Regions from separate parts of the Homo sapiens genome. Here region 2 is linked to region 1. Evidence: fine-mapped expression QTL. A gene starts in region 1. The other region holds a variant in brackets. All regions are shown on one strand. Distances are between the middles of the regions. Region 1 holds the start of CFAP77 (cilia and flagella associated protein 77). Region 2 overlaps CFAP77 (cilia and flagella associated protein 77).

Region 1 (2,901 bases):
TGAACTTTTTCACCAAGTTGTGGGTGGGTGGGTAAGGGGATTTTTAAAAATGCAGCATCTGGCCTGGTGAGGTGGCTCATGTCATTATCAGAGCAAGACTCCGTCTCTTAAAAAAAAAAAAAAAAGGAGAGCCTCAGATGCCATTTCCAGATATTCTGATTTAGTGAGTCTGGGGTGAGTCCTGTGAATCTTCGTTTTTCTTTTTTTGGCACATGGTCTCATTCTGTCATCCAGACTGGAATGTAGTTGCCGAAACACGGCTCATTGTAGTCTCAACCTCCTCAAGTGATCCTCCTGCCTCAGCCTCCCCCATAGCTGGGACCACAGGTGTGTGCCAGCACACCTGGGTAATTTTTTTAATTTTTGGTAGAGATGAGACCTCACCATGTTGCCCATGCTGGTCTCAAACTCCTGGGCTCAGGCCATCCTCCCTCCTAGGCTTCCCAAAGCAATGGGATTACATGGGTGAGCAGCCAAGCCCAGCCCAAATCTGTATTTTTCAATTTCCCTTCATTCTGTTGCTTAAATTTGGGAACCATTGATGTAATCCAACTCTAGCGTTTCCTTGTCACCCATCTCACAGGAAAAAAAGAAAAAAAGCCCTTAGGATCCAAGAGGGTGACTTGCCCGAGTCCTCCCAGTGGGTCAGCATCAGCATCAGGCTTGGAATGCATTTAGTGCTCTGTCTCAGGTGTGTGTGTGGCGCAAAGAGCAGAGGTGGGGAGGGGTTGTGAGTGGAATGGGGGTGAGCAGAGGATGGAGTCTTCGACTTGGAAGACAAATGTAAATGACCCTCTATGAGCCACGCCGCTTTGAACGCAACCCACTGGAGATTCTCGGTTCTCCTGTATCGATTCAGGAAAACTCCAAACAAGTCCACACTGGTAGCCACCAAGAGTTTCTTGAAAGAAAAGTACAAGCCGAGCCGGGCTCTGTTGGCGTCCCGTCGCCAAGGAGACGGGCCGTTGCATTCGTCCTCCAGGGGTGGTCTTGGTTTTCTTTCCTCTCCCAGTCTGCAACGCGGGGCCCAGGAGACGCCCTGAGGATCCCGCGGGGCTCCTGCATTGCTCCGGGGCTCTTTGCGATGAGGGGCCGGCGCGAGCGGGGCGCGCCTGGCTCCGGAGGGGTCCTGGCATCTGAGTTTCCCCCTCAGGATCCCGGTGGTGCGGCCCGGGCCGCCCGGCAGGCCCTTCGGAGCTCCAGGCTGTGCCCGACGTGGGGAAGCGCGCCCAAACCAGCCCGCGGGCCGGCTCCCCGGCGACCTCAAGGATGCCAGAGGCCAGGAGCTCCGGCCCGGACCTCACGCGATGGAGGAAGCAGCAGCAGCCTGTGCGCCGCACGGTCAGCCAGGTCTGCCCGCCCCCGCGGCGGCCCCTGACCGTGGCGGACATCCGTTCCGGCATGGAGAACGAGCGGCTGGGGGTCGTGCGGGACTCCATGTTTCAGAACCCTCTCATCGTCAAGGTGAGCACCCCACGCCCACCGCGCTTTCGCTGTCGCCGGCTCCGGGCACCTGCGCCGCCGGGGGTCCCCACCCGCAGCGCCCTGGCCCCGCGGCCCGGGGTCCGAGCGCAGCGTGGGAAGCTCCAGCTCTGGTCCAGACAGGCCTGGACCCCCATGCAGGTCGCGTCGCCTCTCTCAGCCTCGGTTTCCCCATCCTCACAGTGGGATGATAATGGCACCACTAAAGGGACTGATTGGGAAGATTGAATAGGGTAATTTCTGCGGGACCTCGGGACAGCGCCTGACATGGGGTAAGGCTGCAATGGGTGCTGCTGTGGTTTCCCACAGAGTGAACCCACAGGGTGACAGATAGGTCGCACACGCCCAGTCTAAGTCGTGGCTGCCAGCCCTCCCAGGGTAAAGGCCGCCTCTCCGGTTCCGCTGCACGCCTGGGGTACGTCTATGCAGCGGTGGCTCCGTGTCTGTCCTGGAAGCATCACGTCGAATGTTCATTTCCGTTCGATCATACTAATTTCTTACCCAAATTACAACCCTAAGAGAAAAAAAGCATAATCTTTGGCCTAGGAGGCTCCGCAGACAAGAATGAGGGAGCTGCGGTTTCGGGCTGGATCACTTTCCCTTCCATTACACTTCCCTCCTCCCCACCTTTAGCCTCGCTTCCCGCTGATGGGAAACCAACACTGCTGTGGCGGCCACACCTTCCCGGGGGCCACTGGAGAAGTCAGGCTGAGGCTTGGGGGTCAGGGAGCAAGCCTCGAGGCGAATTTATCTTGCGCCGCTGGAGGGCAGTGCGCCTTTAAAAATGCGCCCCGCGTCCCAGGTGCGGGAGTGGAAGGCGCAGGTGGTAACCGTGGATTCAACAACAATTATTTGTGTGACCGCCAGGCGCTGAGTAGAGCCCAGAGGTGGTGGTGGCGGTTTGTTTTTGTTTTGGGGAAAAGGGAACCCGTGCTAGAATTAACTGAGTTAATTGGCTCCTGGCAAAACATTGACTCCCTCCTCTTGCCTTCCCTAAACTCGGTCCTGAGAGGAGGAAGGATACTGCCTAGGCGCAGGCTGCACCTGGGGGAGGCTGGCTTCCCACACTCGTGCCTTTCCATCGAATAGGCTCCTTTCTTAGGCCTCTCAAAGTGGAACAAGGTCCTTCACTTACTTCTACGTGAGAAGAGCCACTCTGAGTGGACAGGCAGGACAGGCAGGTGGGGCCCATTATTCTTGGATGAAGGAGAGAATCACGTCCGCCACCTCTGACTACCTGCATTAAGGTTAGGTCGTTGCTTTTGTTCAAGTAGTTAGTAGTGAGCCAACTTCTTCCTACTGAAGTGTAAAGTGAGGGCGTATGGAGTTATTCTCCATGGTGAGTTAGTGTGTGGTGCCCACGCTGAGCAATATGTACACACACACACACACACACACACACACACATACATGCATATG
Region 2 (2,901 bases), 160 kb after region 1:
GGAGGATGTTGTGCTGTTAATGGGATGGATTTTGTAGCACTTGGAGGTGATGTAACAGACACAGTGGACACCAGGAGGCGAGGCGGGGTCTTCACCCACCACCATTTCTTGAGAAGAAAGGGCAGGCTGAGATACCGATTGCACAAAATCTTAACTGAAGAGGCTCCCACTCTTTGAATCTGTCTCCCTTGCATTTTTTTTTTTTTTTTCTGATTTATTCTTGAGCTCTGGTTCTGGTGATATTGAAGTTCAGCTCTTGACTCCTGTGGTGGCTGCCACCAGAGAGGAGGGAAGTGATCTAATTCCCAGCAAGGGAGTGCAGACAGGGTCAGGAGGTCCCCCTTGGAGAGGGTGGCTTGTTTGGGGTTTTTAATGGTGGAAAAGTAGTGCATGAAGGACACTGGCTACTAGGTCCCATTGCGTGGTCGTCTGGTCATGGCCTGGTGATTTTTGTTCTGCCTGTATCTTCCCCAGCAAGGAGCTGGACAGAAGGACGAACAGTTCCCCCAGGTAGCCCCTGCTCTCTGCCTCGTGGCTCAGCACCAGGAGGCTCACAGCACTTGCTGTGACTTCCTCCCTCTTACAGCTATTTTTATCATTATTCTAAGATTGAAGCAGGGGGCAGGCGAGGGGAGCAACTGGAATGAGCTACACTGAAGTCTCCCCTCACCCACCCACTCTTCCCTTCTATCCACAGGTGGGCCGCCACCTTGATACGTTCCCCACGGAGGCCGATCGCCAGAGAGCATTAAAAGCCCACCGGGAAGAGTGTGCCGTGCGCCAGGGGACCCTGCGGATGGGCAACTACACCCACCCCTAGCCCCTCCCTCCCCTGCCACAAGAAGCCATCTTGACATAGTGGAAAATTCCCAGAAGGACTCCCTATCTTGCCCCAACCCTGACATTCCCCCATTTTTATGCAGGTTCTGCTTCAAGGAGCTCAGATTCAAGTCTTAGGCTAATTGTTTTTGGTAAAAGTCCCCCCTTTTAGGTTAGCCAACATTAGTCTCCACTTAGCCCCAGTGACCCTCTACCTGGAGCCTCCTCCTCTCCTCCTCCTTCTCCTCCTAGGGCAGGCTCACCCTGCCTCTTCTCAAGCCCTCACCTGCCAAGACAAGCCCAAATTACAAGACAATTTTTTAGACTCCAGGCTAAGGGTCGATTCCATGGCTCTGCCCATTAAGTGTTAAGAACGACCTGTGTATTTGCTGCAGAAAGCATGACAGTGACGTGCTTTGAAAG[C/A]CCTCATTTTCTATTCCAAACATGAGTTTTAATTGCTCTTTTTGGGATGCCTGATGTCTCATCACGGCAGTATTATCTCTCTGGGACCTCTGACAGCAGGAAGAGCCAATGGTTCATTACTCGAGCCTGCCCCCGCCTCCTCAGTGCTGGGGCCCCGTCAATCAAGCAGGCCAAGTTGGACTCCTCCCCCAGGACTGACTTTGGAAGGTCAACCCACTCTGGAAAAAGCCTTCCAGGCCAGCGGGTAGACTGCTGAACACAGGCTGCTGAGCTTCTCAGCCGAATTCCTGGACACTTCCTCACTCGGTCTTTCCGTGTGTTCTTTGGATTCTCTCTGAAAATTTTATGCTGATCTATTTTAAATTAAAAATGCTATTTGTCATCCTCCTTTTGTGTCTCCATTTGAAAACCAGTGAGCAAATCAGCCTTAGAGACATCAAATGAGGGTGCTGCCACATAGAGACCTCTCAAGGTAAGCTAACCTCCAAAACATTCCAGCCACACCTTTTTTGAGGGAGGCAAATTTTCAAGTTTTAAATATCATTTCTAATCTAAGGGTTTTTTTTGTTTGTTTGCTTGTTTGTTTTTGAGACAGAGTCTCACTCTGTTGCCAGGCTGGAGTGCAGGGGCGCAATCTCAACTCACTGCAACCTCTGCCTCCTGGGTTCAAGCGATTCTCCTGCCTCAGCCTCCCGAGTTGCTGGGACTACAGGTGCGCACCACCACACCCAGCTAATTTTTGTATTTTTAGTAGAGATGGGGTTTCACCATGTTGGCCAGGATGGTCTTGATCTCTTGACCTCATGATCTGCCCCCCTCGGCTTCCCAAAGTGCTGGGATTACAGGCATGAGCCACCGCGCCCAGCCAAGGATTTCTTTCTTTTTTTTTTTTTTTTTAAACAGAGTCTTGCTCTGCCGCCCAGGCTGGAGTGCAGTGGTGCAATCTCGGCTCACTGCAAGCTCCACCTCCTGGGTTCACACCATTCTCCTGCCTCAGCCTCCTGAGTAGCTGGGACTACAGGTGCCCGCCACAACGCCCGGCTAATTTTTAAAAAATATTTTTAGCAGAGACGGGGTTTCACCATGTTAGCCAGGATGGTCTCGATCTCCTGACCTTGTGATCCACCCACCTCAGCCTCCCGAAGTGCTGGGATTACAGGCGCATGCCACCATGCCCAGCTAATTTTTGTATTTTTAGTAGAGATGGGGTTTCACCGTGTTGGGCAGGCTGGTCTCAAACTCCTGACTTCAGGTGATCCACCCGCCTCAGCCTCCCAAAGTGCTTGAATAACAGGCATGAGCCACCACGCCCAGCCCCCAGACTCATTTATCCAACTGCCCACTCAGCATCTCCCCTTGGGTGTCTGGCATTCATTGTTAACCACCATAGCCAAGGCAGACACTTGACTTTTTTTCTGCCAAACTTACTTCTCCCTCCGTCTTTCCCATCTCATAAGTAAGACCACCATCTACCCAGCTGTGGAAGCCAAAAGTCTTCAATACTCATTTTCCTTCATCCCTCCAATCTCCCAAGCAGGCAGAGTCTGAGTGGGCTGGCCCTGAGCAGGCGGTAGCACGCCATACCGCAAAAGAGTGCGAAGCACAGCTCTGCCCAGCAATTTCTGTGTGATCTTGAGCAACAGTCCTATCCTCTCTATG

What was found. PIP is the estimated chance that this variant, and not a neighbour inherited with it, causes the effect.
Region 2: its variant is fine-mapped to the expression of CFAP77 in nasal epithelium (TOPMed, PIP above 0.99). The same link has a PIP of 0.9 or more in lung.

Annotation. Positions count from the first base shown.
Region 1 is chr9:132,409,003-132,411,903 of GRCh38, forward strand. It overlaps CFAP77 (cilia and flagella associated protein 77), which reads left to right and starts at 1,209. Exons shown (of 6, transcript NM_001282957.2): 1 at 1,209-1,464. The coding sequence starts at 1,270. It overlaps LOC105376304 (a long non-coding RNA gene), which reads left to right and starts at 1,639. Exons shown (of 3, transcript XR_930405.2): 1 at 1,639-2,729. RefSeq lists a silencer at 2,317-2,366.
Region 2 is chr9:132,571,691-132,574,591 of GRCh38, forward strand. CFAP77 (cilia and flagella associated protein 77) reads left to right here. Exons shown (of 6, transcript NM_001282957.2): 6 at 698-1,629. The coding sequence ends at 820. Among named protein-coding and RNA genes, the nearest start is that of BARHL1, 9.5 kb to the right of the region's middle. The variant C/A (reference allele first, on the strand shown) is at 1,243.